2 separate regions of the Homo sapiens genome follow, and region 2 is linked to region 1. The links come from fine-mapping of genetic effects on gene expression. A gene starts in region 1. The other region holds a variant in brackets. All regions are shown on one strand. Distances are between the middles of the regions.

Evidence for each region. PIP is the estimated chance that this variant, and not a neighbour inherited with it, causes the effect.
Region 2: its variant is the best candidate, but not a certain one, in a credible set for the expression of MRPL15 in whole blood (INTERVAL, PIP 0.82).

What each region holds. Positions count from the first base shown.
Region 1 is chr8:54,133,382-54,137,776 of GRCh38, reverse strand. MRPL15 (mitochondrial ribosomal protein L15) reads right to left here and starts at 2,536. Exons shown (of 5, transcript NM_014175.4): 1 at 2,386-2,536; 2 at 1,112-1,266; 3 at 344-509. The coding sequence starts at 2,493.
Region 2 is chr8:53,488,031-53,492,425 of GRCh38, reverse strand. All of the region lies in intron 1 of LOC124901947 (a long non-coding RNA gene), which reads right to left. Among named protein-coding and RNA genes, the nearest start is that of LINC02984, 34 kb to the left of the region's middle. The variant G/A (reference allele first, on the strand shown) is at 2,237.

The DNA.
Region 1 (4,395 bases):
AATATCTCCTACGGGCCAGGCATGGTGGCTCACACCTGTAATTCCAGCACTTTGGGAGGCCGAGGTGAGCAGATCACTTAAGGTCAGGAGTTCAAGATCAGCCTGGCCAACATAGTGAAACCCTGTCTCTACTAAAAACAAATAAAATTAGCTGGGCATGGTGGTGGGTGCCTGTAATCCCAGCTATTCAGGAGGCTGAGGCAGGAGAATCACTTGAACTTGTGAGGTGGAGGTTGCAGGAGCCGAGATTGCGCCACTGTACTCCAGCTCAGGCAACAGGGCAAGACTCTGTCTAAAAAAAAAATCCTCCTATATAACACCAAAAGATCTAATCAAGACTTACCTCCTCAACCAGCTGGACACCATAATCCCTTTTAAGTGGCTGGATGGTCACACCTCTCCCATTGACAAGCTGGGTTAAGTCAATAGGTTGACTAGGATCAACACGACCCAAATCAATAAGATACTGCAGTCTATTGAGACTCAAAGGCTTATACTGGCGTCTGAAACTGTAAAACAAGAATGTAAGAGTTGGAAAACTCTCATCTTCCTGTAACTTCTCGAAATCAACTCAAAGCTTTGTCTTGTGTTTTCCTCCACCAATTTTATTTAACTAAACAAAACCCTCTTGAGTGTAACACAAACATGTAATACTGCTTGATTTTGGGTAATGAAAACAAACCTGTACCACCTTTGTTCCACTAAAAATTATTTCCCTCTCTAAGCATTTACTTCACTTATTTACACAAATAAATCTGTGGAAAATTTAACTTACTATGGAGCTCAAAGTAATAATGGTAGTTATCATTTATTAGGTGACTACAGTGGGCCAGATTTTTATGTATACTGTCTATTATTGCTCACTCTTTTAATAACCATTAGAGCTGGCATTAGAATCTCCATTTTGCAGGTCTAAGTGCAGTGTCTGGGCCTCTTTTCCTTTTAATAATCCAGGCAAGATTTCATTACCAAAAAATGGTTCAGGGGAACAGTAGCAAAAGTTTGCTTCAAAGTGAATTTACAATTTCCACCAAAATTTCTACCAAACTATTTTTAGGTGCTTTTTAATGGAAATTGGGGACCTGTACTTTAAAAAGCAAAGCAACCTTACCTATGTCCTTCGTTAAACCCGTATTTTGGGATTCGGATGTAAAATGGAGTCTGGCCTCCCTCAAAGCCCAAGCGGGGCCGGGTTCCTCTTTGCCTTTCTCCTTTATGGCCTCTGCCACATTTTCTACCTCTTCTCCGACCTCTTGGTCTTCTCTCCTGCAAGGAAAAAAAAGAATTTTATGAATTTCAGATGCATTTCTAAAAACTGCATTTCAGCTCTTCACTTTTTGTTATGCTGTTCATTCATCCAGCCCACCAGTGCTAGCTAACACTATTGTGTCAAGCATGTCCTAGTTGCTCAAAGCTCCACACACTCTGTTAGCATCTTTGCCTCTAAAGACATAGCTAATTCTTGTAACCAAAGTCCAAGTGTGTTTCAAAAGCAAAAAGTAAAGGTTAGGATGGGGATAAGGTTTTTATAATAGGTTGAAACCGAAAAAAATCCTAGAATTAAATATTCACAACATTTTAAATGATAGGCAAGAATTTATTCTGAAATTAATTGTAAATATGCAAATGTTATTCATAAACCTGTAATTTTATTTGAAAACTGATCTGTTGAAGAAAATCTTTTCCTTAATTTCCTGTCATTTCACGAAAGCAATGAACTGACTGTTAAAATGACAGTACATTGTCAACTAACAGCTTTTCTAGCTCTATTTAGTCAACTGCAGAAGGGACAGCTGCAATTCAGATCTTTCCAATGAACATAAAGATACACCGGGAAAACATTTCATTTTAAATCCAATTTTGAATGACACAAAGACTTTGTAGTTTCAGCGAGTCGGCTTCTCCGCCTGGTATCTTTACACTTGTAAACATAACCTTATTAAGAACTGGGTGCGGCCGGGGGCGGTGGCTCACGCCTGTAATCCCAGCACTTTGGGAGGCCGAGGCAGGCGGATCGCGAGCTCAGGAGTTCAAAACCAGCCTGGCCAACACGGTGAAACCACGTCTCTACTAAAAATACAAAAATTAGCCGGGCGTGATGGCGGGCGCCTGTAATCCCAGCTAATCGGGAGGCTGAGGCAGGAGAATTGCTTCTGGGCGACAGAGCAAGCCTCCGTCTCGGAAAAAAAAAAAAAAAAAAAAAAAAGAACTGGGTGCACGTGGAAAGATTCCCCTCTGGGCAGTAAGGGAGAACAGGCATGAGGCAATCCTATTTTCATCCCAACACTCTCCTAGAAAGGGCAGTTCTCCTAATGACAGGGAGAGAAGGGCCGCTTTCATCGCCCGGGTCCCCAGCGCTTCCCCGCACCGCCACCACCCATTTACCGGTTTCTTGGAGCCGGGATTCGGCTTTAAGTTGGCCAGGCTCACACGCGGCAGGCCCCGGAGTAGGTCCAGGGCCCGGGCCCCACCGCCCTGCAAGGGACCGGCCATAACCCGCAGATCCAAGAACTTTCAAGGGCGCCCTGAGCTGCTCGGAGGCCACGTGGTCTCGGGGGCTGCTTTGTGGCCGTGGCCCCGCCCCTGTCGCGCTGCAGCCGCGCGCGCAAGCCCGGGAGTCGGGCAGAGGCGTGGGAGTCTGCAACCTTGTCTCGGTTGTCCTTTTAGTTGTTTGGGGATGTGATCTTATTTTCCGAGATCCTGCTTTGTCCTCGGGGTCCCTTTTAATATTCTGAACGTAAAACCTTCTCTTTCGCCAAACGAGAGCATGCACTAAAAACACTGCGTTAAATAAAGGATCTTTTTTGAGTCAGTGTTGGGCCTTGCCTGTTTGTCTAGGCCGTGTCTTCTCTGAGGTCAATGCAGAACCCAGAGTAAAGCAAAGTGAGCTGTCAATTATTAGCTTTTGAGCTTGCGTAATTATACACCGTGAGGTACGAAAATAAAACTGAGTGCACCTATCAAAATGCCTGGCTAATAACCAATCTTTGAATAAGACTCAAAGTGTGAACTCTCATCCGTGTGCATCTGTATTGTTTTGAGTGAATCGCAGTTAGTAACCACCTATTGTTAATGACTGGCGCCATACTGAATGCCTGGTGTATGCCAGACGCTGTATTAAATAAGCCTTACTCGATTTACAGCCATTCTAGAGGTAAATGGTGTTACTACATTTTACAGTTACAACAGGGAAGGCTTAGCAAGGTCCGATAGCTTGACCAACTTCTTGCAACAAGCGGCAGAGCCAGGATTCAAACGTACACTGCTTCCTACTATAAAAGTAGTATTTTTAGAATGTAAAATTGAGTATCTGCATCACAAAATACGAACATTATTACTCGAAAAATACCAGCTCTTCTTTTTTCTCTCAAGTGACTTAAATATAGAAAAGACTGTTCCTTTCTTTTTCTTTCTTTTAGTAGTGGTTTGACATTTCACTTGCTGGGGAGTTTTTTCTGCTAGCTCTAACTAGTAATCACAAATAATGAAGGTGAGACAATTTTTGGAGGGCGTCTGTCTCTAGGTATAACTGCGTCTTTTTAAAGTTCCTTTAAATCAAGTGTAAAATAACTACATAAAGAAAAAGTTGTATTCATTCCTTCAAGTACTATTTATAAGTAAGACACTGAACTTGTTGGAAATACACATGGATGAACTCAAATAGGATTTCATTCCCAAGTTGTTTGAAATCTAGTAGGGAACAGTTTCCAAAAGTGAATTATTATTATTATTATTTTGAGACAGAGTCTCGCTCTGTTGCTTAGGCTAGAGTGCAATGGTTCAATCTCAGCTCACTGCAACCTCTGCCTCTCTGGTTCAAGCAATTCTTCCGCCTCCGCCTCCTGAGTAGCTGGGATTACAGGCGTTCACCAGCACGCCCCGCTAATTTTTTTTTGTATGTTTAGTAGAGACGGGTTTTCGCCATGTTGGCCAGGCTGGTCTCCAACTCCTGGCCTCAGGTGATCCCCCTGCCTCGGCCTCCCAAAGTGCTGGGATTACAGGCGTGAGCCACGGCGCCTGGCCCGTGAATGTTTTTTAAAAGTTAAAGATAAAAGTAGGCCTCTTGTAGACTAATTAGCAAAAACAAAATATGTGAGTTCGATAAAATGATATGATGGTAAAGTCTAGACTCTATTTAGAAGCACAGAAGAAATAGAATGGGGTGTGGGGGGCAATAGAACCTATTTTCTGCCTTTAATGATTTTTGGTTTGTTTGTTTGAAATGGAATCTCACTCTGTCGCCCAGGCTGGAGTGCAGTAGCGCCATCTCGGCTCACTGCAGGCTCCTCACCCAGGTTCAAGCGATTCTCCTGCCTCAGCCTCCCCAGTAGCTGAGATTACAGGCATGCACCACAACGTACAGCTTTTTTAGTTTGTTTGTTTGGTTGGTTTTTT
Region 2 (4,395 bases), 650 kb after region 1:
TAGTTGTCCCCTGATCTGTTGGCTTCACCACACCTGAAAAAAATAATGAAACCTATCAAAATACAGGCTATGAGGCAGAGGATCTGATGCCTGCAAGATGAGAGACCCTGACAGTTTTTTCTAGCTCCTAGCCCTAAGCTTCTCCCCTGCATGATATTCTAGTGAGATATGGGGTGGAATGACAGAAAGAAATCCAGCTTGGGTTGTATGTATGTACCTTTGACATTGCATGGGAGCTCTTTGCCTACCTGTCTTGCTTGGGCATTTCCAGTCCTTCCTCTGGGCATTCTCAATAGCAGTGGAATTTTTAATTGGGAAAATGGGGATTACTTCATTGGGAAATGAAGTAATATGACATATTATTTAAAAAAAAGCCACATTACTTCATTTCCCAATTATAAATAGACCCTTCACCATGGATCTGCCATTTGCAACTTCCATGACATTGCAAGTGTTTGAGTTCAAATTCATTTTCTGCAAACCACGACCATGTTTGTCTGTTGCACAGCTGTATTCCCAGGCTTAGCATATCTGGCGCAGTTAGTGCAGGCTAGATATCAGTTAACTGAATGAATAAATAAACCACCCAACTACTAAATCAGGTTGTCTCAAACTCATCCAAAAGTTTATATGGGTTGAGTGTAACAAACTTCATGGGTTTCTGTGGTAGGCTGAATAATCATTCCTCCTAAAAGATATCCACATTCAAATTCCTGGAATCTGTGTGTATTACCTTATATGGCAGAAAGGGTCTTTGCAGATGTGATTAAGAATCTTGAGATGGGGAGATTATCCTAGATTATTTGGGGGACCCTAAATCCAATCACAAGCATCTGTGAGAGATGCAGAGGGAGATGACATGCACGGAGGCAAAGGAGGCAGCGTGAGCAGGAGCCAGAGATTGGAGTGTTGTGTCCACCACTATGGAAGCTTGACAAGGAATTTTTCTGCAGAGCCCCCAGAGGGAGTATGGTCCTGATGACATCTGGGTTTTGGGTTTCTGGCCTCAAAAACTATGAGAATAAATGTCTGTTGTTTTAAGCTCCTACCTGTGTCATAATTTGTTATATGTGACTCAGGAAACTGAAAGTTTCCGAGGGAAATTGATGGGTATTTCTCTCTGGAGAATTCTAAAAAGAGAGACTCCCTGGTCATGTCCTGTAGTGGCCGGATAGTAGAAACTAGATTTGGTGGTCTGTTGGTGTTCCTTTCCAATAATTCTTCTTGGATTCTTTGAGAAGTGTGATGACTTGGCTTCATTTTCTGTCCTCATGTAAGTGACTTAGGTAAGGTTAGATGAGAAGAAGAGCACAGGTGTGTTTAGGTCGACCTACACCCCCCAGATAATTAGGATACTTCAACTCCTGTTGTTCTTAGTCCATTCTTGTACTTGCCAGTCCATGTTACTTAGAAAAAAGCGAAGGGAGTCTTTGAGGTTTATGTTCTACCATTACACAGGGATTGCATTTCTTTCTCTATCGAGTTAGGACTGGAAAAGATACTTCAAGAGAATTTTTGAATTCAATAGGATGACCTTTGAAGGTAAAGAATATGTAAAGTGGATTTCTAATGAAATCTTATTCAATCCCGGTGAAGATATTAACATTTTGTTTTGTGTAGTATTTTCCTGCTTTATTTTTTGTCAGTTAATTTATTAAGAGGCCACTGACACTTTTTTCATTTTATTTTTTTAAATCTACCCAAACAAGGTGATCAGAAGCTTCTAAAATCTTAATAAACACCTGATTCTTAAATGTGAAATGAACTTAGAGAAAGGATATAGCATACATCATCTAATTATTTAGGTATGAAATGTTAGAATTTTGGGGGTTAGAGTCTCAGATATGTCCAAATCATGTCCTGTCCTTTCTTGTCTCCTAGGTAACTGCTAGAGCACATTTGAGATTTTTTTTCCTGAAAAATAAATGTCTTATATAAGAAGCTGGCAGTTAAGAAGGCGGAACATATATGTTTTTTTTTTCCATTTTAAACAATACAATTTGGCCATAGATTATATAGAACATAAAAATTGACAGAGAAATATAGCTTCAAGAGATATAATGTCAGTATGCAATATTTTAGTGAAAGTTACTAACATCATTTTGATTCATTGCATTTCTCTTAATATAAAATTTTATAGAGCCTGCTTTTCCACAACATCCCTGTTAGCAGGGATCTGTGTTGGTCTCATTGTAGACTTTAGTCTATATTCAGTGTCCAGGCTCTGTCCAGTATT[G/A]CAAAGGCAACATATCTAGCAAGGGTTCATCATCCTCTACCTAGAGAAGCTCTCACAGAGGGCAGTGAGTTTTCTCCTGATAACAAAGGCCAAAATGCCTTTTCTCTCTTAATGTAAGATTCATCTTTAATCCTGCGGCATACAAGCCACTTTTGTGCCCAGTCAGCCAGTGTCTGAAATGTCTCCAATCTGAATCCAGTTTACTTTTTTTCTTCTAGTTGGCTCCAGTGGGAGTTTGCAATTTCACTTGCTTTTTGTTTTACCTTTCTGGAGTTCCCTAGGGAAGTTAGTCTATACTATACAAACTTTAGTAGATGGCCAATACATGCATGTATCTTCTCTACCAATAATATTGATTTCTTTAATAACATTCCTACCAGTGTTATTGGTAGAAACATTATTAGTGGAAAGAATGATATCAATTGAGAGTGGCTCCTAGGCTTCTGGCTAAGAAGCCTGGTGAGTGGTTTTAGTATTTATTGGGGAAGATGGTGATTTAGTGTTTTTTTTTTCAATGGATTTGATTTTCTAGAGCAGTTTTAGGTTCATAGCAATATTGAGCATAAGATATGGAATTTTCCCGTATATCTCTAGTTTCTGCACATGCCTCACCTTCCCTCAACATACCCCACCAGACTAGTGCATTTGTTACGATCCATGAACTTACACTGACACATCACCATCACCCAAGGTTTATGGTTTATGTTAGGGTTCAGTCTTGATTTTGTACATGCTATGGATTTGGTTATGTTTATAATAACATGTGTCCACCCTTGTAGTATCATGCAGAGTAGTTTCACTGCTCTTAAAATCCTCTGGGATCCATCTATTCATTCCATGATTTAGGTTTTGATGTCTTGAGTTTGCCCACAGAGGACAAATGAAGGCTTGCAAATGGGTAAGGGCATCTAGGTATACAGTGTAAAATAAGAAGAGAAGATTGCCTGTCACTGCATCTTGAGGAGCAACCACAGGCGGCAAAGAGATGGACCAAGAAAGAGGCATCTACAGCACAGTGAGAGTGGCAAAAAGATAAGTGAAGCAATTCTTTTATTCATTCATTCATTCAACATATATTTTTGAGTCCCTACTATGTGCTAGAGACTACTATGTGTTAAGAGCTGAGTATTTGGAGAGTGGCATCACAGAAGCACAAAATAAAGAGTGTTTTTAAAACTAGAAAATGGTCAAGTGATGTGTTTTGGACATGAGGTCATTGGTGACTTTAGAAAGAGAAGTTTCAGTGGAGTGGTGAGAGTGGGAGCCAGATGGCAGAGGCTTGAGGATGGAGAGAGAGGTAAGCAAGGGTGACAGTGAATGTGAAGAGTTGTCAGGTTCACGACTATGCCAAATGTCATGTTGAGGTCTGAAGGGAGTGGGTGGATGAGCAGAAAGAACTCAAGGGCCCGTAGACAGGTGAAAGATGATTTTATTCAGCAGCAACTGTCATCAACAGCTTTCTCACACTGTCTGCCCTGTCTTGGTTGCTTGAGCCAGTGGCTCCCACATACAGCTGCGCAGCTGGCTCTCCCCTGCTTTCAGGGTCAGCAGCTTAACTCTTTCTCTCCCTGGGCATGAGTGAGCTGAGCTATGTTCTGGCTGCCCTTGGTCCATCTGCAAAGATGGACAGCTCTGACTCACTCTCTCTTTCTCTGGGTGCCAGCACCTATAGAGTGTCAACAGGGCAATTATACCTTTCACAGACAGTAGTGGCTTAGAGCCAGGTGATGAGCCTTTCTTATGTTATGGCTATGGTGGTGAGCTTCTCTATGTTAAGTCTACATGGCTGTGATAACAAGTGGAGTTGTACACCTGCGCTCTAAATTCATTGAGTCACTCTGGATGTTTACCTCGGCCTACCCTTGACCAAAGCACAGCCTTGTTCCTTACACTCCACCCCCTGGGCTGAGGGAGACGTAGGGCTTGATACACAGGTTATATGCATAAACTTTGGGTACATAGACTCAATATACACAGGCATGGGCTTTATACATAAGTTTGGGGCACATAGGCTTGATAAACAGGTTTGGCACACAGGCCTTACATTCTATCCCCTAGGCTAAGGGAGTCCTTAGTGGGGACCCATGCACATAGGGCAGCACCTTGGACCCATAGGCCACAGCAACAATACAGGGAACAACAGACTACCACTAACGTTC